3 separate regions of the Homo sapiens genome follow, and all the other regions are reported to be linked to region 1. Evidence: microRNA targets listed by miRTarBase, many of them from high-throughput screens and not tested one by one. Region 1 holds a microRNA gene; each other region holds the end of a gene's coding sequence.

Region 1 (10,843 bases):
ACACACATACACAAATGTGTTAACTGGCCTTCCCCAATTCAAACACATCAACAACATCCCAAGTCCTTAGAATAAAAACCAAAGCCCTTACCACAGCCCACAAGATTATAGATGATTTGGAGCTGTTATCTACCTGTTGAGCTCAATCCAAACTCCTTCCTCCTTCACTCTCTGTGCTCTGGTCATGTCAGTCTTCTTTAATTTATTTATTTATTCATTCATTTATTTAGAGACGGAGTCTTGCTCTGTTGCCTAGCCTGGAGTGTAGGGGTGTGATCTCAGCTCACTGCAACCTCTGCCTCCCGGGTTCAAGTGATTCTCCTACCTCACAGGCGTGAGCCACTGTGCCCGGCCTAGTCTTTTTAAATTGCTGTACGTGTTGCTATTGTCTTTAACCTCAGGTTGTTTACATAGTGTTCCTTCTGCCTAGAACATTCTCATCTTTCTACCACACTCACTCTGTTAATCTTTAATTCGTCAGATATCAGATCAAACACAACTTCCCAAGGAAAGCCCTCATTTCCCCCACTCAAACCATAATAAGGCAGGTATTTCCCTTCTATGCTGTCACAGCAACTGACATTTCCCTTCAGTGTATATTAATCACTTTTAATAATTCAAATATATATAAAATATGTGTGTGTGTATATATATATATATATATATATATATATATATATATATATTTGGTTTTTTTGTTTGTTTTGTTTTTGAGATGGAGTCTTGCTTTGTCACCCAGGCTGAAGTGCAGTGGCATGATCTGAGCTCACTGCAACCTCCACCTCCAAGGTTCAAGCAATTCTCCTGCCTCAGCCTCCCGAGTAGCTGGGATTACAGACATGCGCCACCACACCCAGCTAATTTTTATATTTTTGGTAGAGATGGGGTTTCACGGTGCTGAACAGGCTGGTCTCGAACTCCTGACCTCAAGTGATCCACTAGCCTCAGCCTCCCAAAGTGCTGGGATTACAGGCGTGAGCCACCGCGCCCGGCTAGAATATGTTATATTGTGTTTATTATATTAATATACTTATTATATATTAAATCATTAAATGTTAATTCCATACAGACAAGTGTCATGCTAAGTTTTCTCAGTTTTAATCCCTGGAGAATAGCGCAGTGTCTAAACAAACTAATACTCAACGAAAATTAGTTGAACAAAGTATAAAAAGAAATCAGGGAATATTTTTTCACTGTTATTTTCCCTTACAGTTTTTGTTTTGAAAATATTTTTTTCTCCTGTAAACTTTCAGTCTGCTCTTTTTTCCAAAGATGGATTGTGTCTGGCATATATAATCCAAGCCCTCTGCCCACCTATTACCCTTGATAATTGTATTTGATTAACCAGTCACATCACAGATGTTGCTACAATTTGATCAGCAAACAGTTCTTCTGATCAGCACGAAATAATCACTATCAGGGAAAGTGAATGTAATTCTGAGTTTTGTTAACAAATGGAGACTTACTATCGAAAAGAATATAATTTTGTTAGAATTTTTGAAATGTAAAAAATAATTATCTAAAAAGAGCAAATATTTAGATTACTTCCAAGGAATAGGACAGAGGTTCAATTATCGACCTGCGGACCTTTGTCCATCTGTAAATAATTCCCAAATTGTAAGTTGACTGTGTTTAAAAGTTTATACATAAGTAAGTCAATGGTTTAGAACTCAATGTATTTTCCATATATATATATATATAGTGTATGTATGTGTATATATATATATACAAATTTGTAATATATAAATTTGTAAAACTATACACATACACATTATATATAGTGTGTGTATATATATATAGTGTGTGTGTATATATATTCTTTAGCAGTATATATATATATTTCTTTAGCAATTGTATATATATACATATATACACTATATATACACACATATACACTATATATGTATATAGATACTATATATATGTATTTAGATACTATATATAATATTATATATAATATATATAATATATAATATTTTATATATATAATATATATAATATATAATAATATATTATATATATATATATATATATATATATGGCTAAAGAAATAACTTTAATGCATTTAGAAACCTCAAAATCAAAATTTCCCTGCTGGCACTGCAGGGTCCCCTCCCTTTGGCTGGCCCTCCTCTCAGAACACTGAGCACTCCCGGGCACTCAAAGTCTCTCTTGCCCACATGTGGGTAGGAGGGACACAGGGAGACCCTGCATTGTCCCTAATAATTGCAACGGTGCCCCTTGTGCCTGTCAGTCCGGGTGAGGTTGCCCCATGGGTGCAGTGTGGAAGTGGTGGCGACCAGAAGCTGAGAGAGGCCTGGCCAGCAAATGGGACTAGGCTGGACTCCCTGGAAGCAGCAGGGAGATATATATATATACACACACACACACATATATATATACACATACATACATACATATATACATAGATATATATACACACACATATACATATATATACACACATATATACATACATATATATATACATACATATACACGTTTATATATATATATATAAAGTCTGTGTGTACATATGACAACATATAAACATTTAGGCCCACACAACACTATTTAATTGCATAGTTAAAGTGTGTCAATAGCAATTAAATATTAAAGTCTATCTATAAAAAATGCATTTGAAGTAGTAGTTGCACTAGGAAAGATTTTTACAAGAACTGGTGCTATTATGGAACTAATTGCAATGAATAATAAAACTGAACTTTCTAGTTGCCTAAGGTTCTGCTACTTCTGAGGGGTAGAACAGCTATCCTTAGCTTCCCAGGTGGTGGAACATTTGAACAGGATGCCTGTAGGTCAGGGATCTGAGGTTGCCATGCAGAAACTAGGATCACTATTTTTAGTCAGTACAAACAGCTGAATTCTCCAGAGAGTTTCAAACTGCATAAACCAGATCCACTTTCACTAAGGTTCCTAGAAGCGCCATTGAACTTGCCTAATATACTCTTTTATCTTGGTAATTAATTGTTCAGCAACAAGTGAGAGTAACTATACAGTTGTTATATTTGGCTATTTATTTTCCTATGGTGGGCAAATAAAAAACAAAAATTTTATTTTAAGTATTGATACAAATAAATAGAATAACCTAGAATTGCTTTAAATTTCCTAAATTTTCATAAATTAACTAAATCAACGAGTTATGTTTGCTTTCAGTGTACTGACATGCCTTTACTCAAACTCAGAAATGAAATATACAGTGAGAAGGGGAAGAAAATTAATTGCAGAGAAGATAAAACATTGATATATTTGAAAGACATTATTGGCTAACATAATTAGGATAGAAAATGGAGGCTCAAAAAATTGGATCTAAGCTAAAATGGTACTATGAAAAAAATTTTTAAAACAAGCTTTTATGGAAGGTCTAAAATGGTATATTCCTTCTAGAAAGAGTAATTTGAAGAGCCAATTAAGTCATACTAGGCAGTAATCTTTCAGTTAATGGTATTTAATTAAAATGACAGGGCTACTCCTTGGATTTGAGGGTAATGACAAATGAAACTTTAATTAGAGTCTTACCTTCCAGGAAAGAGTATGGGCCACTGGATTTTTGCACAAAATATACCACAGTTACTCACATAATTTCTTTTGTTGCTTATTTCTTTTCTTCCAATTTTAAGTAATATATGTACTGCTTGTTTGTTTTTGATTTCCCGCTTTTACAGGTGAAAGTCTGTTTTTCTCTCTATGTAATTTCCCATAATTTATTCTAATGAGGCTAGCTAGTGTCATCTACAGAATCCTAGAATGAATTCAATACTAAACTAAAACTTTGCTTTTATGAGATAACATGCAATTGTGAGACACATTTAGGAGTTTCCACTTAGGCAACTTGAGATAAACTGAATATAATACATTCAAACAGAACATTAAATGAGAGAGAAATAATATAGAAATAGTAGTTAGAGCTTCGTCAAGTTAATATTAGAGATGCAGGCTTTTAAACTGAAGTGGATCTAACATATTTTAGATATTTAAGAAATGTTCCCCAGTGGGTTGACCACATTTCATTGCTTAAGGTAATGCAGAGCAGGGTATGAACAAGAAAGCCTAATGTATGATTTCCAACGAGTGAGGCAGGACCTTGTACATATAATGCTGTGTCCATTATAATAATGATGAACAAAGAGCTATACAAACACGCTTGTCAGTTTCTAACCCCAGACTCTGGCAGAACAGTTGAAAATAGATGCTCAATAGAGATGTCTGCTGAGTTGATGCTGACATATAAGTTCCATGTTATTGATCTACATGTGGGAAAAAAATTGAAAGGATTTTTTTTTCTCTAGTTATTGAAAGTCAAGGGTCAGATGAGCTCCTTGAATGAGGCCTATTGTTCTAACTTGCCCCTGGTCTTAAAAAAACTGTTGGCATTAGGATGAACTATACATTCCAGAAAAGTGATTCTCAACTCTCTCCTGATTGTACCTGATGACATGTTGCAGAAGCCAGTAATTTGTTACTAATATTAAAGAGTAATGTTAGTGGATGATTTGCTTTTATTAAAAAAAAAGAAGGGCATGTTCAGGGTGACATATATGCCACCTTATTGCATTCTAGTAAGATAAGCTTTTCAGAGGAGACATCACAACAAGCTACTGGAAATAAAATACAGCCAACACATTGTTTTATCTCAGCCACATCCAGCAGTGTGATCACACAGACACAAGGATCATGGGTTTAGATGTGGGGCAAAAAGACAAACAAAAAGGCTGAGAACTGTAATCCTAGATTGTGAAAGAGAAACAGAAAGGTCTACTGACCAGTGATTGACGATACTTCTGTCTGAAAACATGCTTTCAATCGATTTAATATTTTTCCATATTTATGCCAGGATAATTAAAATCAATTGAAGAAATCCTACAGAAATAAGCTCCAACTGGATTTAATTTGCAAAAAATTTAAAGGCTGCACATTGTTTTAGAAAAAAGACAGGTCAAAATGAAGGTAAGATTTGTATTACCAGCTTACATGTAAGAACTTCATTGAATGTTTTGAAGATAACATTTTGAGGAATGTAGAAAAACACTGAGAGGAACTTTATCACTAATTATTATAGAATATTTAACACAAATATAACCTTTAGATATGATTCATTTTTCTAAGTGAATTTGAAAGTATTTAGGTATGACTATGAGTAGAGTCTCTGCTACTCACTAATGTAGGATACACATCATCAACTTCATACATTTACTATATTCCTCCTTCAGTAATTGAATTTGTCACTCTTGTTAAAAGAAGACCATAAACAGATTATAAAGGATCAACCTTATGTGGTTTCATGAAAGGCTGCTTTATGAGATTTAACAACAGATTCATGCTATCAATGCTGATGCTAAATGTGGTCCATTGAACAATCCTGAAATATAAAAAGACTAATTACATAAGTTGATGTTACACATGAACATGAACAGAGAAAATATTTTCTCAGAAAAAAATTAGATAACAATCTCAACATTTATATACTTAAACTCCTGATTAGATACAACCAAGAAAAAAAGTTTAAGGGAATACATATGATTTTTAATTTTTTCCTTTCCTGCAAGGTCTATAAATTATCTTTCACATAAGCACTGGCACCATTCATTTCATTGAATAATTTATGTCTTGTAGAATGTCTGCTGAGTTTACAAAGATAAGATCAGGACTATTAGAGATGCTTCCCTTGGTGGGATTCAACACCTCAAGTAAACCTACTGACATCCATGTTGAGTGGACAAGTTAACCCTTGCCTAACTGAATTATTTTGCATTTTCAACATTACTTCCTTGTTTAGAACTTAAACTTATACTCAGAACTTGGAGGAACTGACAACAGTGGAAGGTACCAGCCATAAAATGTTGTCCATTGCAAAGCAGTAGAAATGAGTAGGAAGATTTGTGGGTGTTCCCGGGAACTCATCAGTCTCCTGTTCATTTTCAATAGGAGACTCACAAGTTCCTGCAAATGCACACAAACTTATTCTAAGCAGGAACCATTTGCAGATAAGCAGCTGTTCATATTTCCTCCATTTCAAGTGAATACAGTAATCTGTTCCCCTGGAGTATCTTCAGCAGCTTGCCTGGTGCTTGTGATTCTTTTCAAACAGTTTTGTGGGCATCCCAGACACTGGTCACCTTCATTTATGTATTCAATAAATATTGATTGAGCATCCCTTAAGCAGGTCACTGTTCTTGTTTTAAAGATAGAGTGATAAATAATTTCTTGCCTTTAGGGCAATTCTATCAAACATTAGTCCAGTTCACTTTCAATAATGCCTGAGTCAAAGTATCAGTCTCCAATGCCAAATGAGAGGCAGTGGTATTTAAATTTGTACTTCCTGGTGCAATGGGAAGAATCTAGCAAAGGGAACTACGAGATCAGAATTCTAGCCCTACTGCAGCTAAGACATAGCAGTATTTCCATGTCACACCATTTAACATGTTTTTTGCTTCAGTTTTTTTTTTAATTTTAAAAATTATTATTTGGGCTATTTTACTTTTCATTCTGGATATAAATGTGTGATGATGATATAATAACTGGAAACAAAGAATGGAAGTGTTTATACATAAATATAATGTTATTGAAGTTGTCTTTTTCTATTAAAAAACCTTTGTTTCAGCAATTACTGTAAATTTTAAATGTATTATTAATAACTGGAATCTTTTCTACCAGCCAACACATAAATTATTTTTCTCATATAAAAACAAATGGTTAATTTGCCCATTTAATGGCTCCTAACATTGAAACTTATTTTTATCAGCTTTAATGTCTCCATTAGATCTCAGACTCTAGCTCTAACGTTCTAAGAAGACAGGCTCAGTTCTTGACCAGGAAGGTGGTAATCATCAAGGTAAATATTTTTCCAAGACCAGGTGTTAGTCTTTGCAGTTTTTCTGAAATTTTAAGCTCTAGAAAATTTTGCCTATGTTAGTTTGTTCAAATGAAAAAAATAAATATTCCACTATCTCTTCTCCCCATAAAAAGCATGTGTATAGGCAATTATGCCTGTTCACACACAGGGTCTCTGTCCATAAAGGTTCCCAGCTGGTAAAATTTCATGCACTCATGCTTGGTACAGAATAGCATATAGATCCATTTATTTTACTACCATATGCCCTTGTAAGAGGCAGTATGTAAATACTTTATTGAAGAGGTTTAATTTTTAAGTCCTATCTAGGAATTGGCAGAAATTAACTACAGGTTTTCTTGGTTTTTTGTTTTGTTTTGTTTTGTTTTGTTTTGTTTTTGTGGGGCAAAAGAAGGGGTTTTGATCTCAGTAGACTTTCCTGTCCCTGGAGCTTGGATTTCTGTTTCTGTCTCACTGTTAAAGGACTGAGACCATATCTCCATATAATTAGGTTGTGCAGGTAAGCAGTTACTGTCTTTTCCTAAATGGGTACACACTTGTGTACCAGGGGCAGCACTGCCATGGAGACCTGATCAAAGGGGCCTGCCTGGTATTTAATGAGGTGGAAGAAGAATGCCACAATGAATACAGCCTCAACTACTCTGAATTATGAGGTTTATGTGGTTGAGTGTAGAAGTTTCTCCAAATGGACCCAGAGTCAGTTACTTGTATGGCAGAGGAGTTTGGAGGACAATGGGACATTCTCTCTTTAATCTCTACTAGGGCTGGGGAAGGAAGTAGACCCCACTGAATAACCTCCTCATTATGTGGCTATATTAAAATTGTTGAATATCTATTTATGTAAATCATATGCTATAAAGGTTATTTGCTGTTAAAGTCTCCAATTAAAATTCCAATTGACAGTCAAGAATCCTTGAAATAGCCTAATCAAATAAGAGTAGATCACCACTTTATCCAAGGAATAAGCATCCTCTAGGCAGAGGCACCATCCTGTTTTTCTTTTTTCCACACCTAGAAAATCTTCAGCAGCTAACAAAATCAACTGACTAGTATATGAAATGTATTTGTAAATAAATAAATAATCAGCAACTCAGAGAACATTTATTAAAAGTTTTCTAAAGGGTAGAGTAGGTGGCTAAATAAATGTGATACAATCATTTCCTTTATAGTGTTTGCATTAACATTTTACCTAATAATAAAACGTAGGTTATTTGTGGCAAATGCATATCACAGATGCAGATATACAAAGATGACAAGGAGAAACACTAAATAGCAATAAATGGTGCAAACCAAGAAACAGAGGAGGAAATGTTGAAGCAATTGTGTAGCAGTACATAAAAGTTTAGAGTTCTACAAGCAGAGACCTGTATGTAACTATCACACATAGAATAAGCAATGTATTCTATGTGTGCCTCACATTATATTTAATCTCTCTGGGACTTAGTTTTCTCATTTCAAAATGTGGATACTAGTAGTACCTATCTCATAGTATTTTATCATTCTTATCAGCATTATTGTCATTATTGAGGGTAAGGAATGGAACAGAGAGAACAAATTGAATGTTATAGCCCTGTTACTGAATTTACATATTAATGCTAAAATCTTGAAGCAGGAAAGGAATTTCTGGAGAAAAAAAAAAGAGTATTAGTCATATTAACACCTAACCCATTATAATCCTGAAAAATCTACTAATAACATTGTCATTATAATGAAGTCTGGTACCTTTGGGGTGAGTATAGATGCTATTTCTAGGGAACTGTTTCCACATTTCTCAAAAAGTTATTTAAGATGATGAAAACTATACCCATTCCTTGTACTTCTATTAAGAGAAGCCATTCCTTAACATCTTTATAGCTCTTTGACAACCTTTCTGCTACTTATTATTATCAATGCTGAAATAAATTATTTAGAGAATACTCATGCAATTTATGAGGTCACAATAAAGAAAATGGTCAAAGTCACAGAAATACAAATATTTCTTAAATACAGAGCAACATATTTTAGAATGAGAATTTAGACTACGTGAATGCTGTAAGGCACTTAAAAGTTTATATGAGTTTTCTATTTTAAGATACTTTTTTTATAAACACTCTAACATTATTCATGTTACTACCTCTTTGGTTAATAAGCATTTTCTATCCTTATCCCAGTGTCTGATCTTTAGAGAAACAAAATAAACTGTTGGAAATAACAAACTGGGTCTTTCTTTATAAATTTTTTTACCTCATCAAATCACTATGTTCATAAAGTATACTACATGGTTGAAATAGGTGGAGATAAATCTGAATTTTAAAATTTTCACTCCATGCTAGACTGCAGCGATGCACCTATCCAGGTTTTTGATTAGAATTATGAAAAACAAGCAGTCATAATGTACTGAGCTCTAAGAGGTCAAGTTCTCAAGTTTGAGATTTGCTTAGGCTTATTTCTCCATAGTGATTGCCACTATGCCCATACACTTTACAGAAAATGTGTGAAGAGATCATGATAAAATATGAATTTATGTATTGATTCATGCTTTCAAAGATATTTGTTTGACACTAAGTTCATTACTGATAAAAATGTTCACCAATGCAATTGTACTTTTCATGCTTATTCTTGATACTGAATCTGACAAAAAGATTTCTGACCAGCTATAGCCACATACTTTTACTAATAATCCATGTTTCATGAAACCAACAAAAACTATATACACAACTTAAAATCAAAAGCAACTTAACATGTAAATAAAAGCAATGATAATGACATAATTAAAAAGACAATTTCTCTTGACATACTCTTATTGAAAATGATTATACCAACACAAAAGATTTTATTACTTGGCATAAGAAACAGCAATGATAACTGTATTGACTTTAATTTTGTCAGATACTCAAGTTTCTATTCTGAGTCATACTACCCTATTGAATATTATTACACAATACTGTTCCTTAAATAGTTTTAAATTAGTTTTGATTTGGAGAAATAGTGTTATGCTAGTGCTACAATGACGAAAATGTTTAAAACTTAAATTATTTTTTTAGAAAAAAGATTTCTGTTGAAGTATTTAATAAAAATTCCACTTCATTTTCAAAGAATTTAAGTATATTCAATCCTGATTATATCTCAAGTAGTGATAGCAGATACTATAAGAAATGTTTCAAAATGCTTTATGCACCTCTACCTTTCTATTAATTAAAAATTTATACATGCTTGATGCTTAAAGATCCAAATATTTTAAACGTCTACAAAAGCAAATGTGAAAGCCTCTCTTCTCTTCTTCCATTCTCTACCCAATCCAACAGCCTTCCTGGGAGCAAGCATTATTAACAGTTTAACATTAATCTCCCAGAATGTTTCCATCTAGTATAATGATGTTTTGTTTGATTTTATTGCATGAATTGGGACCGTATTACCCATTGAATCCTGCAAATTACTTTTCACATTTCTCAATATATGATGGTCATTATACCATGTCAGGACATCTGACTATTTTTAATGGCCAACTATTTCCCATCAATGACTAGTTCCCCCTCAGCCCATTACAATGCTGCAATTAACATCACTCTGAGAAAGTCTATTTATTTTTAGGTTCAGACTGAGTATTTCTTAGTAAAAAGTCATGCAGTTTTTTAAAAATATAAATTGCTAAAACCCAACAAATTGTCCATCAGAAAGGCAATTTGCACCCCCAACAGCAGATAATAACAGTAATCATTTGTCTGTGTCCTTGACAGCAATGGTTATCATTTTTTTTTTTAATTTAAAAAATTTGATGGAAGAAAATATCTTATTGTTTTTAGTTTTTTTCTGATAAGAAATATAATTGAACATGCATTAGTATGTTTCATATTTCTATTGATTACTTGTGTGTCTTTTTCACAAATAAGTTATTCACACTTTTTTTTAATGGTTTGATTTTTTTTAATTATTATTATACTTTAAGTTTTAGGGTACATGTGCACAATGTGCAGGTTAGTTAAATATGTATATATG
Region 2 (10,843 bases), not on the chromosome of region 1:
AAAAGAAGCATGCCAAAGCCTCTAGTACTTTGTATGAGGCTTATCTTTTATCACTCCAATAAATATACCCTGGAAAAGCAACCATTAGGCCTGGTGCGGTGGCTCACACCTGTAATCCCAGCACTTTGGAAGGCCAAGGCGGGCGGATCATGAGGTCAAGACATCCAGGCCATCTCAGCCAACATGGTGAAACCCCGTCTCTACTAAAAATACAAAAATTAGCCGGGTGTGGGCCAGGTGCAGTGCTCACACCTGTAGTCCCAGCACTTTGGGAGGCCGAGGTGGGCGGATCACGAGGTCAAGAGATCAAGACCATCCTGGCCAACATGGTGAAACCTCGTCTCTACTAAAAATACAAAAAAAAATTAGCTGGGCCTGGTGGCACGTGCCTGTAGTCCCAGCTACTCTGGAGGTGGAGGCTGAGGCAGGAGAATTGCTTGAACCAGGAAGGTGGAGGTTGCAGTGAGCCGAGATTGTGCCACTGCACTCCAGTCTGGTGACAGACCAAGACTCCATCTCAGAAAACAACAACAACAACAAGAACAACAAATTAGCTGGGTGTGGTGGCGCATGCCTGTAGTCCCAGCTACTTGGGAGGCTGAGGCAGGAGAATCGCTTGAACCCAGGAGGCGCAGGTTGCAGTGAACCAAGATCGTGCCACTGCACTTCCAGCCTGGCAACAGAGCGAGACTCCATCTCAAAAAAAAAAAAAAGAAAAGTGACCATTAAAAAAGGTGGCAAGCTGGGCATGGTGACTCACTCCTGTAATCTCAGCCCTTTGGGAGGCTGAGGTGGGTGGAGTACTTGAGGCCAGGAGTTTGAGACCAGCCTGGGCAACATGTCGAAACCCTGTCTCTACTAAAAATACAAAAATTAGCTAAGCATGATGGTATGTTCCTGTAGTCTCAGCTACTTAGGAGGCTACGGTGGGAGGATTGCCTGAGCCCAGGAGGCAGAGGTTGCAGTGAGCTGAGGTTGCACCACTGCACTACAGTGTGGGCAACAGAGTGAAACCCTGTCTAAAAAAAAAAAAAAAAAAACGGTGGAATCACCATTAAAAAGTAGGTTGCACTTGAGAAAGTAATTGCAACAAACCATAGGGGATTTTTGCCCCATCTGGATGTATAAACACTTTTAAAAGACATTTATTCATTCACTGATTTAATTACTATTTGGTTAATATTTATTATACACTGGGAAGGATGGTAGGTGATGCAAATTTAATGGTGAACAAAATGCAATTCCTGCCTTCAAGGGGCTTATGCTCTCCTTGTTTTCTACATTACTTTTTATCATTCTGTTGTTAAATATTATTTTTGAAAGCCTTAAAATATTTTAAAATTACTTTCTTTTCATCAAAACTTTATTTTACTTTCTTCTTATCCTTATGATTGGCATTAACAGTACTGCAAATTCTAGAAAAGAAAATCTCCAAACCTGTATGTCTTGTTAGCAAAATTAAGAATAATTTTGAGCCAGGTGTGTTGGCTCACACCTGTAATCCCAGCACTTTGGGAGGCTGAGGTGGGAGGATTGCTTGAGCCCAGGACTTCACCAGCCTGGGCAATATAGTGAGATCTCATCTCTACAAACAAATAAAAAATTAATTAAAAATTTTAAAAAAGAATAGTTTTGAGAAGCTTATTTTGATGAAATAATACATATTTTTGATAATTTATAAAATAAAGGAATCTGGTAACTTTGACATAACGAGGCCATTAATTGTTTAAATGTACACACTGACATTAGAGCTTTCTCAAAGACAAAATAAGTGTAAAAGTCTTTCATTATTATTATTGTTATTATTATGTGTGTATATGTGTGTGTATGAGAGAGAGAGAGTTTCACTATGATGCCCAGGCTGGAGGACAGTGGCACGATCTTGGCTTACTGCAACCTCTGCCTCTCAGGTTCAAGCAATTCTCATGCCTCAGCCTCCCAAGTGGCTGGGATTACAGGCGTGCGCCACCATGTTGGGCTAATTTTTGTATCTTCAGTAGAGACGGAAGTTTGCCATTTTGGCCAGGCTGGTCTCAAACTCCTGGCCTCAAGTGATCTACCTGCCTCGGCCTACCAAAGTGCTGGGATTACAGGCATGAGTCACCACACCTGGCCGTCTTTCTCTATTATTGATAACCTTTAAAGTGTTAATAATTCTGCTAACAATTTGTTTCTTTTCACTCTGCAAAATCAGTGTCTTACATATCTTTTTTTTAATTTTTTCTTAATATTTATTCTTCATTTCTTTGGATTACTTTACACAGATGCGTTCAGGTCAGCTTTCTCGAAAATTTTGGGGATCGAGCAAGCGGCTCAGCCAGATTTCAGCTGGAGAAACTGAATATAATACTCAAGATTCCAAGTGATTGTTATTTCCATTTTCTGTTATGATTACTGAAACCTGATTTATTGCTTTGTCACTTTAACCACATCTCTCAACTCTCTGCAATGTTGCAAGGCTTTTATCCCTGAAAATCATTTACAGATAACCACAATTTGCTGTGGTATATAAACTAATTCTTGGTCTATACTAAGATGTATTTGAGAAAATACATTTGATTTGATTTTGTGGCCCATTCCTAAAGGTCATTGTATCCATTTTTAAAACAAACTAAAATGAGAACATTAGGTTCAATTTTCTTATTATTCCAAATGATAAAATTTAAGATTTTTCTAATAAAAGAGTACAGATAATGGGACAGTTGAGAGAGATGGCTTTAAATACATTCTTAAGTAATCATTTTCCTATTTACTGACCACTGTAATGAAAATATATCAATTTATTTATGGAACTCCTGATTGGGGATAATATTTTAAAGGTATCTGTTGCACACTTGGATTTTCAAAACTCGGTGAAAGTTACAAGTTTGCATGGTAAGAATAAAATAAGAATATTGAAACTGGTACATTAGCTAATTCTATTACTACTTAGCGTGTTTCTAATGAGAAGTTACTGAAATCTATTACTGTCCTTAATAAAAATTGAGTAGAAAAAAGTGGAACTAGAGATACATTTTACAGATGTATTTCCTTAATAATATAATTAAGCAAAAGTGCTAATTGTGATTTTGACAGTTGGGCCTTTTAAGTAGCATTTGCAGCACAATTTGCATTTGCAAAGTTCCGAATTTCTTGACTCTTTCTTCACTAAGCAAATACTGTTTTACTCTAATAATTAAGAGTTAGTAGTACCCAAATATGTTGAATTTTTACTTAGGATATCTGTGTGATTGATGAATGAATTGAAAAGATATGTATAACTTAAAATAATCATTTATATATAGTAATTTAAAAATTTCTATTTCATGTTTTAGGATTATAGCTAATTTTATTATATAGTGTTAAATGTTGTGGTTGATTATTAAGATCTTAAAGTAAAAGTCTGATTTATTTAATTTGGAATTCAAAGACATTGTTAAACTTAGATTTTTTTGTAAGATTATCTTTTGAGTTAGGTCAGAGAGCTTTTACAACTACCAGTGTTATTAATCTGAGATTTCATGTGTTTGGGAGAACTTGTGAATCCCTCTGAAATTGTGCAGAGACTTTGTATGTTAAATGCATTTTCAGGAAGGAATGGTTACATGGCTTTCTTTAAAGGGATCTGTTTCCAGTAATAGTATTCTTTTTTGTTCCACAAATCATAGATGTCCTTAAATCCAATTGTCTTCTCAGTTGAATCTTAGAGAAATTTTTCTTTTGCAATTTCGCTTTCCTGTTGACCACAGTATCCAGTGCCCTTTTCTTTATAATCTTTTGAGTGAGTAAAAAAATTTTAAGAAATAAAGGATTCTGTTTAGGGAAACTTTTGAATAGATTTGATTTGATGTGAGTCAGGGCTAATAAAAAGCTATAGAAGAATTTTCTTTCCAATAAGTAAAAATCCTCTGTTTTATTAAGGAAAAAATAGCTATGTTTTAGGTAAATAACTCTGAAATAAACTGGTACAACAATTGTAAAATAGAACATATTTAAATGTCAAGGTGTCTTTTCTTAAGACTTCAGGAATTTGTATTGAACAAAGTCTCAAGTTAAGTAGCAATAATTATGATGCATAAATGAGACTGGCATCTATTCATTTATTTTATTCTTTTTTGGGGTGATGGGAGGTTTCAATCCAGTGCTTCACCCGTGGTGCCACCGTGGCTATCTTTTTTTTTATCTTACAGTTTTTTAGGAGATTTCAAGTCGGCAGAACTAACATGATTGATTTTTAGTTTTTAAAATACTGATTTTTTTAGAAACTTTTTCTAAATCAAAACCTACTAAGTTTTATTTTGTTATTTATCCAGAGATTTTGATGTAAAAATGCCTTCATTTTTAAGATTACTTAATACTGGATTTGAAAATTATTTTGGATGCTTATAAGTTTTCTAAAACTTAGATAATTAGAAAAAATGCCTAAGTTTATGATGTTTTACTATGCTGCTTTTTAGATGGAAGAAATAAGCAGTTTTTACTTTATAGTACAAATAAGTTTTGTTCACAATAAAATAGATATCCTACCTGGACTAATACTAGATGTACAAGGTAGTGGAATTATTTCTTATATTGCTTTTTCCAAAAAGTAAAAACCAAAAATGTGGGCCGGGTGTGGTGGCTCATGCCTGTAATCCCAGCACTTTGGGAGGCTGAGGCAGGCGAATCACAAGGTCAGGAGTTCAAGACCAGCCTGGCCAACACAGTGAAACCCTTTCTCTACTAAAAATACAAAAATTAGCCGGGCATGGTGGCACATGCCTATAGTCCCAGCTACTTGAGAGGCTGAGCAGCGCAGGAGAATCACTTAAACCCGGGAGGTGGAGGTTGCAGTGACCTGAGATCACGCTACTGCACTCCAGCTTGGGCAACAGAGTGAGACTTTGTCTCAAAGAAAAGAAAAAAAATATGGAATTTAGAGAAAAATCTTTGAGAATACTAGCAACAGTCTAGAGAATGGAACTTAAATTTTATCTGTTAAAAGAAGCAAACAACTATTAGTGAATAATATATTACTCATTTAAAGAGTATAGCCTACTGAATTAAAAATCACTAGATAAAATAATTGGAAAGAAGTACTTTTGAGAATTCTGGTATATTTAGATGTTACCCATAGAAATTAGTTATATATTATATAATGGGAGAAATGAACAGTATCATTGGAATGAAATAACAGGTGGACATTTCAATTGGTGAATATAGTATCTCAAGTTGGCTCTTACAAAGTCTGTTACCTGGCCAATTGTGGTGGCTCACGCCTATAATCCCAGCTCTTTGGGAGGCCGAGGTGGGCGGATCACAAGGTCAGGAGTTCAAGACCAGCCTGGCCAACATGGTGAAACCCTGTCTCTACTAAAAATACAAAAATTTGCTGGGCATGGTGGCAGGTGCCTGTAGTCCCAGCTACTCAGGAGGCTGAGGCAGGAGAATCGCTTGAACCCAGGAGGCAGAGGTTGCAGTGAGCCAAAATCGCACCACTGCACTCCAGCCTGGGCAACAGGGCAAGACTCCATCTCAAAAAAAAAAAAAGTCTGTTATCTTTGCAAAACTTTTTGTATGCTTTTGTTTCTTGATACTGGTGATGACAAAAATAAAAATCTCAGCATCCTGGTGATAGGAAGAGATTTATACCAAGATAATTATTTTACTTTTGGAAAATGAGATCAAGTATTAAAACATGTAATAGCTGTGCACGCTTAGAGAATAAAGAACCTTTATAAAATTTTTTTACAACTGTTTGCAATCAGTATTCTGGCATTACTCAGATAAAATTGTAAGAGAGAAAGAAAAATAGATCAGGGCATAAAAATCAGGAAAGTATATAAAAATGAAGTTTGGCAAGTTGGTTTAGTCTTTCTTTTTAGCCTGTGAAGCTCACGTCTGTTATTAAGTTAATAACAAAATTAAAATCTGTTAACTTTGTTTAGGTCACAGTGCAGTGCATCCTTTTGTAGAAGAAAAAATACCAAGTGTTCATTCTGTCATTAGCAAGGAACACCAATGAGGTTTCTTTTTTTTCTCTATTTAGGGCATATTAAAATTATCCTTCAGAGTACTTGTATTGAAAATCAAGTTTATGCTTCTGAAAAGAATAAGTGGGCTCTCAGAATTAGAATTCAGATTTGACGGTTGAATCTTAAGACATTTTATATTTTGTGTGAAAAGGAGTGGTCAGGGGAAACTGTTAACTTGGATACCAGATTTTTATTTAATGATGATAGAGATATGACCTTTGCCTTTATGTATATTTTATATTGTTACTACTAAAGAGACCACTGAGGAAATCTTGTAATTGAACTTAAGGAAGTTAGCTCCTTTTATATATTTATAAAATGAGTAGCATTATCTTTACCACCTTTCCACTGAAAAGATGCAAGTCCTAGGACTATATTAAATATAAATATTATATTATTAAATAATATATGTAATATGGGTGTCTGTTGGGGTTATGTGTGTGTAAAGATTGGTCTTTTCAAATATGTATATTTAAACCTGTCTTCTGGAAACAGGTTCTTGAACCTATCTTTAGGATACAGTTTTTGACTGGGATATAAGAAATGAAACATGTTTGTTTGTTTCCTTTTTGTTTGTTTGTTTGCATCATCAGCCATACTCATGGCTTATCCTACGCATTGTTCCTCTCATCAGCTGAAACTGTTTCTCCCCAATAAGTGAGCAATCTTAAACATTTTCATCACTCTTTAACAAAATCCATTCTCAATATTCTTTTTGCTGAATTCGTATATTGTATATGCTCAACATATTATTTGTTTTAAACTTGACTCCATCCAGAGCATTGTTCTATAGAGTTTTCCTGTATTTATCAGAGTCATGTGGTATTTTTCTTGATGACCTTAGGCAACAATATAGTGTTATCAGTCATCATTTTAATATGATTTAAAATGTGGACCACAGCCTGCCTTCTTTAGTTTAAATCTAGGCCAAGCATGGTGGCTCATGCCTATAATCTCAGCACTTTAGGAGGCTGAGGCAGGAGGATCACTGGAGCCTAGGAGCTCAAGACCAGCCTGGGCAGCATAGTGGGCTCCACCTCTACAAGACATTAAAAAATTAGCCTTGTGTGCTGGCAAGCGCCTGTAGTCCTAGCTGCTCGGGAGGCTGAGGCAAGGGGTTTGCTTGAGCCTAGAGATCAAGGCTGCAGTAAGCTGTGATTGCACCACTGCACTTCAGCCTAGGTGGCAGAGTTAGACCCTGTCTCCAAAAATACATTTTTTTAAATTTAAATCTGGCAGTTTCTAGGCCAGTGGTTCTTAATGGATATTACAGATCAGACTTCTCTGTGGAGTTTATAAATATACAGATATGTAGGCACTGCTTTGGACTTCATGAATCTCTTTGCTTGATATTCTTGGTATTAAAAAATTATGTCTGAGGATTATTATGTTATATCCTAAAAATTTTTCTGCATAGAAATTTGTCCATTTATCTTTATATACCAGATCCAATATTCAGACTTATTTGAAAATAGGCTTAATCATTATCCTGAGGGACATTTTGTCTAAAATTTGCTTGGAATGGCTTTATTATCTTTGTTTTGCCTGCCACAAAAACAACAAAATCTCCTTTCAATTGAGTTATTTTTATCATGAACTCTCTTTAGACTGTTCACATTTGAAAATTATAACTAATATTTGCCTCCAGAAAAGTACATCTGTTTGCTAATATTAGTTCCTGGTGACTTTCAGTGAACGTTTTGCAAACTTGAATTAGGCAACATTTTAAAGAAGAAAAAAACATGACTAACATGCTAAATTTAAAACATAAAAGTAGATCTCTTAGAGCCTTGAAGCTTGTAATCAATAGAATTTTCCTAATTAAAAAGCATTGGGTAAATTATCTACTACTTCCAATGACTTTTGCAGGTACAGCCTCTGTATGGAAATAATCTTTAATTTTTTATAGGTATAACAGAGAAGAACGCATTAACATTTAAGATGTTTAATTCCAAATAGGAAATAATTCAGTTTTCTGTGTTAAGAAATGTAAGGCCATCCTAGAGTATAGGAGTTACGTGATTTTCTTCTGTATAAAAATCTCATTTAATAGTGGCTGTATTATCAGATACTTATTTGATTATAGTAATTCATCAGACACATCTCCTTCGTTTGGTGATTATCTCATTGATCTTTGTCACACGTGAGTGATTTCTAAACACATTGCAGGATTTGGACCTGTAAAGCCAGTGGCTTTAGTGATAAGTAAAAGGGCACATTCAACAATATTTACCTTTGTCTTAATGCCCATAATCTTATGAACTGAAAATTCAGAAGGAAAAGAACAAATAGAAAGCTACTAATTCAATATTTGTTTTTCATGGTACGGTTTTCATGTTTCCTTGGAAACATATTTTGCAAATATAACAATAATAGTAATAACACAATTTTGTCATTTAAAAAATTACCCATTCATTTTTCAAACTTGACTGTTAGTGGAGGGGTATATGTGTGTCTGTGTTTCCACTTATGTAATGGCTGTCTCATTATTTAAATTAATTTATAATTATTTTTCAGTGTACAGAGTGATTAGCGGCTTGTAATGCTGTTACAATGTAGCATTGTAATGTAAGATGAAGAAAAATTAGGATTTAGGTGGGATTTTTAAAAATTTATCAATTCAGCTACTTTTTAAAAGAAGTCCTATTCCAATTGGACCTTTAAAATTTTTATTTTGGTAATATTTCAACTTAAGATGTATTAAAACTAGCAATTCTGTGGTAATCAGTGTACTAGTCAACATTAAAATGCTATTTTGGGTTGTCTTCTTTTGGTAACATATTCTGACACTAAGCAACATGTTTTACAATTTAGTGGGATGAACCTACAAATTCATAAATGCTTCTCTTTATTTTGAAGGAAAAAGATACTTGTCTGTATACGACATAATTGTTTTACTCTTCAGAATGTGAAAGTTATATTAATCACTAAACACTTTAAGAAGTGGTTCTGGTAGGATATCAGTAGTCAGACTTAATTGAAAAACTGTCAGCGTCTGTTTTGTATATAGGGATTAAAGAGGATAACTTTATTTTTTCCTTTGGAAAGAATAATTCTTTTGGAATTTTGGAATTTTGATTTTCTTAGATGACTTTTTAGCAATTTAATGATAATAATTTCTATTTTTCTTCCAAAACTATGGCATGTTATAGTAGATCTTACTATTAAAGATCTTTTATATTTTAAACTGTTTTTTTCCTATTCTGCTTTTTGCTGCTCTCAAAGACTGTGATTGATGAACATCACCAAACTTTTTTTGTGGCAAACTGCTTATTTTATAAGTAGCTTTATATAAGAAAACTTCTTAGAAAACTATGTGGCTGGTTGGTTCCATTTAGAAACTCTTAACAGGTATGGCTTTCATTCCTCCAGTTGTTTGCTTTTATAGACTTGGAGCAAAAAATATAGCAAAAAGTAATCATATCTGGCTAGATAGCCATTTCTCTCAGATTCATTGCTATAAAAATGAATCTACTGAGGCATAAAAATATGAAACATATTTAATTCATCTCTTTTGTCAGTTTTTCTGGGACTCCAATAGCATTTCAGTGTTATAGAGAGTGACAGTGACTTGAATGCATGTATATGCACATAGTCAATTCAGAGCGTAATAACTAAAAATTCAGAATGACTTGTTTTTTGAAAGTACTTGGAAATTGTGCTGCTACTTAAATATTGAAGGAATTCAGAAAGTTGTGTATTTATCTTAAAATGTTCCTTCTCACTTATTCTACTGGAATTGACCATGAAAAAGAAAATATTATGCCTTATTTATATCTAATTATTGACTGTGCAAACTGTGACTCAGTGGATATTTGTATGCCCCCCAAAAACATTTTAAAGCTGAGCAATTTTTAATAAAGATGTATAAATAATTTTGATTATTCTCATTGTAGTTAAGTTACTGTTAGTTTGGTGCAATACATTCTTTCCTTCCTCATCCTTTTAAAATTAAATATATAAGATGTATGTTTTGTTTTATTACATTAAGTGCTATTTTTAAAAAATTCATTGTGTGTATATGAGCTAATACTTGATTTGTTTCTGTATAGCATGATTAAAGATAATTGAAAATTTTGCACTTATTTTAGGCCCTTGGAAATTTGTATTCTAATACTTTTTAAGAATGTCCATTTATTTTGTACATAATAAATTAGCTTTGTATATGAAAATGGGTTTGAATCAAATAAAAAAAGTGATGTTACTTTCTTCAGTTGATTTGTAATTCTCAGTTCATAGAGTCTGATTAGAACTTATCCTTGGCTAAGTTATTTGGGTAGACAAGAGATTGAATACAGTATTTGTTAATTAGAAAATTGATCAATGTTTCTTTCTCATATGAGCAGAATTTCTTCTGTAGTCCTGTGTGCACAAGATACATGTCAATTGACTATTTTTTGTCATATGTAACAACAGATATTCTGCCTTTCACTTTAGAGCTACCTCAAAAACATTGTTACAGGCTAGGCACAGTGGCTCATGCCTGTAATCATAGCACTTTGGGAGACCAAGGCTGGAGAATAGCTTGAGCCCAGGAGTTCAAGACCAGTCTGGGCAATATAAAGAGACCCTGTCTCTAAAAAAATTTAAAAATTAGCCAGGCATTGTGGCATGCACCTGTAGTTCTAGCTTGAGCCCAGCAGGTGGAGGCTACACTGAGCCAAGATCACACCACTGCACTCCAACCTGGGTAACAGAGAAATACCCTGTCTCAAAACAAACATTGTTTTAGTTTTTCCCTTAGCAAATGATTATATGCCATAAATCTCTGTTTGTAGTTAACCAAATAATATATTAGGTTGAATTTTTTAAACCTACATTCTTTCATAATTATAATCTCTAGGGCCAGT
Region 3 (10,843 bases), not on the chromosome of region 1:
GAGATGGAGTTTCACCATGTCGCCGAGGCTGGTCTTGAACTCCTAAACTAAGGCGATCCTCCCACCTCGGTGTCCCAAAGGGCTGGGCTTACAGGCATGAGCCACCACACCTGACCCATTTTATGTATTTCTATGTGACTGGAATCCTCTATAGTGAATAAGCATTATTTTTCTCAATGATAGAATTGAGCATAATTTCTCTGCTAAGCATTTAGAGTTCATTTTTTCATTTACTATTCACAAAATCACCAGATGGTGGGTATTACATATTCTACAGGTGATACTTAGAAAAGTTAACCTAATTTCAGCAAGGTAGTAAATATTCTTTAAAGAATATTTTCAAACGCTATCTAAGGTTAATGTAATCTCCACAGGCTCATTTTGTCTCTATGAGAAGGTGACTTCTATTTTGGCTATTTCTCCTTCCCGTTATGATTTCACTTCCCTCTCAAAACTACTCAAATCCATTTCCTCTGGGAAGTTATCACAGGCTGTAGCCCCTAGTGACTGCATTCACTCTACTCTCTAGCATTTTAATGCACTCCTTTCTTGGTCTTTGCACCTGTCACCATTTGGATTTGTATGCAATGTTTCTATTCTTTTCCTCTCCCTCTTTTGCTTGAGCGTTGATCATTTGCCTGGAACTTCCCGTGATCCTTCAGAGCCTGATTCCAAACCTACAGGGTAGGTGTTAGGACTGAATCCTTAAGTGTAGCATTTGATGGGTCCTTAATATTGAGGAATAACAATCTAACCAATCAAGCAACCTTTTCCTTATACCGGACTATATGCTGAATCCACCGAATTATGTAAATGTCTCTGAGTTGAGAAACTTCTGAAATAATAGATAATTCAAGTAATGTCTTCTTTTTTTTTTTGTGGAGGAGAGGTATGAGTCATAAAGAGTCACAAATTTTTTTTTACAAAATATGCTAATTGTACTAAATACTTTGTCATACACTGGCAACCTCTTTAACATCTAGACACTAGATGTTGCAAAATTAGGACTCATTTGTCCGTTTTATACACTATATACAGAGCAAAACAACATGCACAAAACATGCAAAAAATGGTGTCTGAAAATGTCCAAGTATGAACACACTGGCATATTATCTTTTGCAATGTCTTCCCTCCCATCTCCTCTAAACCACTGAACAAGTATAGACAGTACTATACTGCTCACAAAGGTGGCTTCACAATTCAATTTCCAAAAGACAGCATTCCCCATGAATTTTAGCAAAAAGATATTTACGAAGTGGTATTTTACTACCTCTACATTTAACATACATTGGGCACTTCTAAACATCTAGATAGACTAGATGTTTCAAGTAAGGAGTTCATTTGTCCACTACGAACACAGCAGTCTTGAATAAACTGCAAACATGTGACAACAGTTATAATTTGAAAGAGTCTTCCAAATAGGAACATTCTGGCCTAGAACCCTTCCCATCTCCATCAACCCAGCGGGCAAGAATGCTCAAATTTTCAGAAGACAATCTTTCCTAGGACTTCTAAAACAAAATGTACAAAATATATTAGTTTACTAACTCTACTTTTATCATGTACTGGCAACCTCTTTAATATCTAGAAAGACTAGATGTTGTAAATCAGGACTTGTCTGTCCTTTATGTACACTATATACACAGACAAGTAAAACAAAATGCGCAGAGATAATGATTAATCTTGCCTCGCTGTAAGCACAGTGGCATAGAGATCTCTGCACTTCCCCCTCCTCCCCTGAACCAGTGCACAAACACAATGAGTATTACTCAACAGGTGATTGGGCCATTCCCCCACCAAACATTTCATATGAATTGTAACAAAAAGATATTTACAAAAGGTTATTTTTTTCTACATATATCAGGCACTTCAGAATATCTAAAAAGAATAGACATTTCAAAAAAGCTTAGCATTGTCAACCATATACACAGTAGTGAGGAATGAAATGCACACAAAACAATGGAGAGAATATGAAAATGTCTTCTAAATATGACCAGTCTGGCACAGAAGCTTCTTCTCTTCCTTCTCAGGTCTTCCAGCTCCATGTCCTCTAAACCACTTAACAAACGTGGACGTCTCGCTTCCAGAGGCCGTGTTAACAACTCCATTTCCAAAAGTCGTCTCCAGAAGACATTTATTTTCTATGATTTCTTTTAAGCAAATGAGAATTTACAAGATGTGTGATTTTCTAACTTTATCATACATCAGCAACCTCTTTCCATCTAGCTCATAGAAGGGCTAGATGTGGCAAATGTTTTCTATTAAAAGGTTTGGGTAGTGTTGAGAGCAGCTGTTTCATATTAAATACACAGGCCTTCCATAAACGGCCAGTAAATCTTCCCAAAGGGTGGTGGGCATTTCCAAGAGGCCAGACGTGGCTTGTCATTCCACCATTTCTCTCTTCCGACAGCAAGCTCTGGTAGAACGAGACCAACCGCCCGAAGGCCGCTAACTGTTCCACCCGTCATCGTTCGGGACTTCGCTCACCTCCCAAGCCCGTTAAGGCCTTTGTCCGTTGTCCTGAGGACTCGGCAGGTCTCGTCCAGTGGGAACAGAGCGGTCACCCGGGCCCGGACTCGCGCGGCTCCGTGGCCTAAAGAGGCGGCCGAGCTTGCCTGCGTCGCGAGACCGCCTTCCCGGGCCCTGCACACCCTAACGGTCTCCGCCGCGCGGTGTTGGGGCGGCCGCCATGCTTCCCGGCCCGCCTCTCCCGCCGCCACCCGGAGACACTGCGTCTCGGCGGCTCGGCGGGGTTTCGTCGAGGCCGGGCAGGATCCGGCGGCGGGGTCTGGGCAGGGAGAGCCGCCGCCAACAGTCACCGAGGTGGGGTGGGGAAGAGAGGTTCGCCGCGGCTTCGAGGCCTGCGCCCGGCCAGTGGGCAGCCACAGCGGGGCCCCCCGTGTCTGCAGGGCAGAGGGCGCAGCCAGTCCGGGGCCCCCTAGCTCATCTCCCCATCTCACCCGCCGGCCTGGAGGGCCGTGGGGGAGCGCGCCGCGCTCTGCGTCTCTTCGAGCTCTTTCTGCCGGGCCGGAATGCAGGAGTCACAAATTGATTCAAATAGGTTTACAAATTTAAAAAAGAAGCTTGACAACCACTTAACCTGTTAAAGGATACTACAGGAGTGGCAGAGAATTCCTCAATTCTTCTGCTTCTGTGCTGCCAGGGCTAAAAGCTGCTTGCATTGTAAATAACCAGGAAAAAGGAACAGATTTCCAGGTGGTTGATGATGTGTGGTTGAGAAAAGAGCCTCAAGGTAACTACTTAATATGTTGATTCTAGATTATTTTCCTCGTCCAGTGTAATTAGAGAAACAAACACACAACTAGTGAATCAAAGATTTTTATTTTGTTCCACAAATGTGTACCTTTTATATTTCGTTAGTCTGATAGCAAAAATTACATTTTCCACCTCTACAGTCAGTTCTCTAGTTTTACTCCTGTGCTTCAGTGTTTGAATGACAAGCCTCATCAGCATGACATATTTAATCCAACAGGCTTGGACACCATTTGGCAAACCAGTGGATTCACAGTGATCACTGCAGAAATCTGAAAGTGACTTGATAATACACAATTTAGGGTGGGGAAAAAGGCATTTTCCCCCTAAATCAAATATTTAAAAGTTTGCAGACTTATTTCAAGCATGTGGGAAAGTATAGAAAACAACAGCGTATTACTATGTACTACTCATCACCCAGTGTCAATTAAAAAAAAATTTTTTTTTGAGACAGCGACTCACTCTGTCATGCAGGCTGGAGTGCAGTGGTGTGATCATGGCTCACTGCAGCCTTGACCTCCTGGGCCAAAATGATCCTCCTGCCTCAGCCTCCCAAGTAGCTGGGACTACAGGTTTGTGCCATCATGCCCAGCTCTGTCAAATTTTATGCTTCTCATATTAAGCTTTTTTTTTTTTTTAAGTCACATATAAAGCTCCCTGTCTGTGCCTTTCAGATCCCATTTCTTTTTTTCTTTCCCTAGGTAAACACTGTTCTGAATTTGGTGCTTGTATTAGTCCATTCTCACACTGCTAATAAAGACTGGGTGATTTATAAAGAAAAGAGGTTTAATTGACTCACAGTTTTGCATGGCTGGGGAGGCCTCAGAAAACTTAACAATCATGGCAGAAGGAGACGCAAACACATCCTTCTTCACATGGCGGCAGCAGAGAGAATAAGAGCCCAGGAAAGGGGGAAGCCCCTAAACCATCAGATCTCATGAGAACTCACTATCGTGGGAACAGAATGAGGGAAACCAGCTCCATGATTCAATTGTCTCCACGTGGTCCTGCCCTTGACACATGGGGATTATTACAATTCAAGATGAGATTTTGGGTGGGGACACAGCCAACTCATATCAGTGCTTATTATCCACATGCTATTATTCCTGTGTTTATGAATCCATACATAATACTACAGTATTGTTTTGCTCTTTTGTACTTTAAATGGTATATCATACATACTATTCTGTACCTTCCCCCTTTTTGGTGGTTGTTTATACAAGTAACTTGAGTCATTATACAGTTATATTCCATTATGCCAAAGTTTATCCATTATCCCGTGGATGGACTTCTGGTGCTTTCTGTTTTGCTATATAAACAATACTGTGTACATTTTTGTACATCTCCTTTACACATGAAATAGTTTCTGACATGTTCATGTGCATACAAATCATTTGGTGGGTCTTGTTAAAATACAGACTGATTCAGTAAGTTTGGGGTGGGACTGCAAATTGTACTCATATGAGGAAAAATGGGGGAAACATATAAAGGTAATGCTATTGTAGAAAATACAAAAAAAAAAGACAAAGTGTCCTCATAATCTAGTATGTGGTATAGCAGAGTGGTTTAAAGCATGGCCCCTTTAAATTCAGTGTTTGAATTACAACTCAACTACTTGGAAGTTGAGTGACTTTGGATAGGTCATTTAATGTCTCCAAATCTTGCTCTTCTCATTTTGAAAATGAGAATTGTTATAATAGCACCTAGGTTATATGGTTGTGATGAGGCAATTTGCTAATATACTAGATACAGAATGCTTAGGACATTGTCTGGCACATAGCAAAAACTCACTAAAATTTGAGCTATTATTGTTAAGTTTTAGCCTCCCCCCCATTAATATATTCTTTCTCTCCAAATTGGATCACACTGTACATGCTCTTTTTATAGCAAACTCTCGTCCACTGATTGCAGAATGAAAACATTTCCAAGTTATTCTCTATTAAGTCATTTAGAAAGGCTGTTTAGTATTCCAATGTATGTATCTACCACAATTAAATCATTGTTTGATGCTTCAAGTTGAATTATTTTACTCATGAATAATACTGCATAGCTAAATCATTTTATACCTTTTAGTTTTAATATCAGCTCACTTTCTCTCCCCTTTTAATCAGCTCTCAGCTGTTACCATTCTCCCCTTCTAATCTGTGATCAGATAATCAATCGAGTTAAATCAGTTTATTTGCTATACCTTATCTACAATTCTGTCACTTGCTCTAGACCTTAGGTGAAAAGGACAGCTATTACAGCAGCTGTGAAGGCAGGCTATTTTTGCCTATTTTAGGGTATGCCTCTTAGTTAGTCCAGCTCTGCTAGTCTCACTGGATATGAGATTAGGAGATACCATCCAGAAGATGCTGGCACATCCTTTTGTTGTGGGTGCCTTTTCCCTTCTACTACCTCCCTCTTGGGGTCTGAACACTCAACCTACCTTTATACCCAGCTGCTGCCACCTCATTGTTACCTGTTTCTGATTTTCTGAAGCCGCGATGCCCCTTAGCCTAGGTCTGGGAGTTACCAGTTTTCTTGACTTCTGACACCAGTATGTATGCATGGTGCTAGTTTCTACTTTGTGGGCCTCTCTGCTTTAGTTTCTCAAAATTTTTTAGTAGCCTGTAGCACTTATTTGTGCTTTTTAAAAAACTTCGGATCCTGTTAAATTCCCACATTTTTGTCTATATGGGAGCACAGAAAACAGACTTCAACAATTAAAACTCCCAAATCAGGTATTACTAAGTAGCCTAAATCCAGCTGGATAGTCCTGTTTCCCAAACTTGCCTGAAGGACCACAAGGAATACCTGTTGACATATTCCCAAGCCCATCCCAATGGGCAGCTCCTGTAATTTGGATATGTTATCTGGATATATTATTTAACACCCCAGGTGATTCCTATAATCAGGCACAGTTGGAAACAATGGGCTTTTAACTAGGATTTTCTGAGATCTTCCAGGACACTGGGAAGTTCAACTGAGACCTCAGGGAGCTTGTATGCAATTTAGAGGTAGTGTAGGGGTCATCCCGGGGGGGGGGGGGGCGGGGCAGGAAAATTCTAGGATTCAAGTATTAGTTCGAATACTGGAAAGTCTGTAGAGCTTGAGACCAAAGAAGGAATTTATGCTCTTTTTGTTTTAATCTTGCTCCTTCTAAAGGAACTTATGCTCTATTTACCATCTCTACACCAGCATGGTTTCAAATATATATCCCCTGGTTATAGTATAGATTCTGTACCAAACACTGGGGTTCCAGAACTGTCAGATGAGTCATGCAGCTCCTCAAAAAGTGTAATGGAGCCAGGCATGGTGGCTCATGCCTGTAATCCCAGAAATCTGGGAGGCTGAGGCAAGCGGATCATGAGGTCAGGAGATCAAGACCATCCTGGCTAACATGGTGAAACCCCGTCTCTACTAAAAATACAAAAAAATTAGCCGGGCGTGGTGGTGGGCGCCTGTGGTCCCAGCTACTCAGGAGGCTGAGGCAGGAGAATGGCGTGAACCCAGGAGGCGGAGCTTGCAGTGAGCCGAGATCGCGCCACTGCACTCCAGCCTGGGCGACAGAGTGAGACTCCGTCTCAACAACAATAACAACAACAACAACAAGAACAACAACAAAAGTGTAATGGAGAATGCAGGTCTTTTGAGGACTGAATCCTTTGCATACGTTAAAATCATTTGGAGGGCATATCTTTTATTATGTAAGGTTTTATATTCACTTAGAAAAATCAGCTGAATGCCAGAACCGTGTTAGTAACTGCTCTGGCAGTGCTAGCTATGCAATTTTTGAGGACTGAGAAAGCGCAGAAGTCTGATATACCTGCTTCAACTCGTGACAGGCATTTAGTTTCTTGGATCATCCATATGTAAAATATAAATCTTACTCCCTCAATCTGAGGACACAGGGAGATCCAAACATGCACAATAATTCTTTTTTTGTTGGGGGAGGGCAGGAAAGGGGATGGAGTATCGCTCTGTCACCCAGGCTGGAGGGCAGTGGTGTGATCTCAGCTCACTGCAACCTCTGCCTCCCGGGTTCAAGTGATTCTCCTGCCTCAGCCACCTGAGTAGCTGGGATTACAGGTGCCCGCCACCACACCCAGCTTATTTTTTGTATTTTTAGTAGAGATAGGGTTTCACCATGTTGGCCAGGCTGGTCTCGAACTCTCCTGACCTCAAGTGATCTGCCCGCTTCAGCCTCCCAAAGTGCTGGGATTACAGGTGTGAGCTACTGTACCTGGCCATGCCTGAGAAGATCTAGAAACAGAAACTGGTGAATCCTGACCCCACTACACACATTATTTATTCACATGAGATCACAATTTGTTTCTCTTACAACTCATCCATTTGACAGACTAATGTGATGAATAAATAGAATTCTATAAAAGTGAGGCCAAAATAAAAAGCAGCCTAAGATTGTTGAAGAAAACTCAAATGGTGGTCCACGAGACCGCCAAAGTTGAGAGGGAACCAAACTTATCGGGGGGGAAATGCCCCTATGGTTCTAAAACTAAAAGCTTGTCACTCTTTACAAACTGATTTATCTCTTTGAGAGAATCCTGAACATGAAGTCATGCTACTAATGTTTACTCTAAAAGTAGGTTAAATATTTGAGCATGTTCCCCCTAATAATTACAGAAATTATCTCCTTCCTAAAAAAAAAAGTTTAAAACTTTAAATTGTGAGACAGTAAAGTGGTATGGCATGAGAAAAGTACTTTATTCGTGCATAATTTTTCAGTTCCATTCAAAATTACAGTACAAAAAAATTCCCTTGCTTGCAGAGTTTTTGTTACTTTTTACTTAAATATTTAGAGTTAAGAAAAAAATCAAATTTAAAATCACTATTGATGGAAGCTTATATTCCTTATGAATATATACATGTATGCATATATACATCTCTGTATGAATCACTCAAAGCAATTTTAAACATCATTCTTTTTTGTATTTAAAATTGCCCTTTTAAACATTTAGAAGTTCCAGAGGTGGAGGCTTTAATGGAATTTTTCCCAGAGTAAATTTCTTGGATTGAAATTGTTCCAGTTCTTCTACTGTTAGTTTATCTCTGGGTGTGAATAACACATTATCTGTTGCAATGATGCTGCTTGAGGCTGACAGAGAAGTGGATATGCTGCTATTTCCAAAAGTGTCACTGGATGGCTTAGAAAAAGCAGTGTGAGAATGTGAGCCCGGACTACCAAAACCAGCCACAGAACTGCCACCTCCAAAGGCTGGGGCCACTGGAGCTCTGACAGGACCTGTTGCCAAGGAAGCTGGAAGTCCTGAAAATCCAGGTGATCCAAAACTGGAAGCTGCAGGGCTTTTGAATGAAAATGATGCAGCCGATGTGACTTCAGGCTTCCCAAATCCAAAAGCTGGAGCAGAAGTAGAGATACCTGAACTGGTAGAGGCTGCAGCTCCAAATGCTGGGGAACTCCCAAAACCAGCAGGGCTTCCAGAAGAGGCAGCAGCAAATCCAGAGTTTGTTTTAAAACTAAAGTTCTGAGCATTATCACTGCTGCTGTTATTGACTGGAAAGCCTACAAACAACAACAACAACAAAAAAAACAACAAAAATCTATTACGGTCAGAAAAATGTCACAATTATTTCCTCCCCCTATCTTTTTTTCTTATTTATGTCATGTTTCAGTGTTGAGAAGCTTACTGGACGGACGAGATGAGGAAAGTAAAAATGAGAGGCTAGAACTACCCACTAAAGCCTGCTGCCTGTCTTTTCTGCTAACAATCCCATTTTCACCTTGATCGACCTTCACCCAAGGAGAAACCACAGGGACTAGGGAATAGACTTTCACTTTGGTTTCTACTTACCTCACCAGAGCTGCTACCTGAGGACAATGCTATGCTGTTATACACAGTGACAAGAAAGTTCTCAAAGGTGCTGCTATCATAGCTATGTACTTCTACGAAACTCCTGAAAACTCATTCCTAAAATGTACTTCTAAAGCTTAAGTGTCTTTCAAAGAACATGCCCAATCTGGCCTCCCTTTCACAAATGTCTAATGAGTCAAATGCTTTGAGGCTCTATGATGGAAGGTTGTAGAATTTACGAAGGTAATTTAAAATGGCGATTCAGGCTTGTAATTTGAAACCTATAAAATCTAATTTTTCTAAATCAGTGAAGTCCTGCATTACTTTATCACTTACCTGGCGACATAAATGTTGCTGCTTGACTGCTGCCAAATCCAAATGCAGGTGCTGCTTGATTTACTCCATCCTTTACATCAGAGAGCTGAAAAAAAAAAGTGTGCAAATAATAAAGTGCTTGATGAATAGTGCTCCAGTATCTTTTCTATACACTTTATGGACAAATTCAAGTTTTTAAAATGTGCATTAAAGGCTGGGTGTGGTGGCTCACACCTGTAATCCTAGCACTTTGGGAGGCTGAGGAGGGTGAAGGGCTTGAGCCTATGAGTCTGGGACCAGCCTCAGCAACACAGCGAGACCCCCATCTCTATAAAAAATTAGCCAGTGGTCCCAGCTATTTGGGAGCCTGAGGTGGGAGGATCACTTGAGCCTGGGAAAGCCTGGATGACAAAGTAAGACTCTGACTCAAAAAAAGAAAAGAGAAGAAAAAAGTGCATTAAAAAAGGCAAAGTTAAATGCTTAACATGGAAAATGCCCATAATATGATGTTGAAAAGGATAAGACATAATACTGTATAAACAGTATAATCACAACTAGTAATATGAATATGCATAAAAAATGTACATTAGTAAGTTAACAGTGATTATCTCTGGCTGATAAATTACAGGTGATTTAAATTTTATTTATGCTTTTTTATACTTTCTAAATTTCTACAATGAGCAGATATTATAATCAGAAAAATATTTTTAAATTTTTTTCAGTGTCTATAAGGGTAGATCTGCATTTATCAAGAAATCTAGATATTAGGTAAAAAGGACCTTTATAGAATACCCAGTCTAATACTCGAAGTAGATCCACTATTATATAATTAAAAGCTTATGACTAAAAATCCATTAAACATTTCCCATTCCCTGAAAGTACTTTATGTTCTTGCTGTTCTGTGCTCTAGAAATGTCTTTCATCTCTGCTTACTGAAATCTTAATCCTACTTTCAAGGAACTTTGTATTTGCTCCTTCCTTTCAAGAAGACTTTCTTAATCATCCAAAGCAAACATAAGCGATTTCTTTCATTTGGAAGCCTCAAAAGCATTCTTTGGCCGGTGTGGTGGCTCACGCCTGTAATCCCAGCACTTTGGGAGGCTGAGGCGGGCGGATCATGAGGTCAGAAGATCGAGACCATCCTGGCTAACATGGTGAAATCCCGTCTCTACTAAAAATACAAAAAAGCTGGGCGTGGTGGTGGGTGCCTGTAGTCCCAGCTATTCGGGAGACTGAGGCAGGAGAATGGCGTGAACCCGGGAGGCGGAGCTTGCAGTGAGCTGAGATGGCACCACTGCACTCCAGCCTGGGTGACAGAGTGAGACTCTGCCTCAAAAAAAAAAAAAAAAAAAAAAAAAGAATGCTTTTGTTTTTGAGACTGCAACCTCTCCTGGGTTCAAGTGATTCTCCTGCCTCAGCCTCCTGAGTAGTTAGGATTA

The links. The annotated mature microRNA hsa-miR-873-3p reads GGAGACUGAUGAGUUCCCGGGA and lies in region 1 at 5,906-5,927, opposite strand. An mRNA with a match to its seed (bases 2 to 7 or 8) in the 3' UTR can be bound and repressed. Matches are read on the target gene's strand: a 7mer-m8 pairs with bases 2 to 8, a 7mer-A1 pairs with bases 2 to 7 and ends in A, and an 8mer does both.
Region 2: miRTarBase lists NBEAL1 as a target of hsa-miR-873-3p. Seed matches in the 3' UTR shown: 7mer-A1 at 4,023-4,029.
Region 3: the mRNA of NUP42 is a reported target of hsa-miR-873-3p. The part of its 3' UTR that is shown has no 7-base or 8-base seed match.

The regions. Positions count from the first base shown.
Region 1 is chr9:28,882,984-28,893,826 of GRCh38, forward strand. MIR873 (microRNA 873) reads right to left here and starts at 5,972; the gene lies at 5,896-5,972. All of the region lies in intron 2 of LINGO2 (leucine rich repeat and Ig domain containing 2), which reads right to left.
Region 2 is chr2:203,214,989-203,225,831 of GRCh38, forward strand. It overlaps NBEAL1 (neurobeachin like 1), which reads left to right. Exons shown (of 56, transcript NM_001378026.1): 56 at 2,265-10,206. The coding sequence ends at 2,366. Among named protein-coding and RNA genes, the nearest start is that of CYP20A1, 19 kb to the right of the region's middle.
Region 3 is chr7:23,198,125-23,208,967 of GRCh38, reverse strand. It overlaps NUP42 (nucleoporin 42), which reads right to left. Exons shown (of 7, transcript NM_007342.3): 6 at 9,426-9,510; 7 at 7,962-8,800. The coding sequence ends at 8,223. Among named protein-coding and RNA genes, the nearest start is that of NUP42, 21 kb to the right of the region's middle. RefSeq lists an enhancer at 2,475-2,534 and a silencer at 2,725-3,004.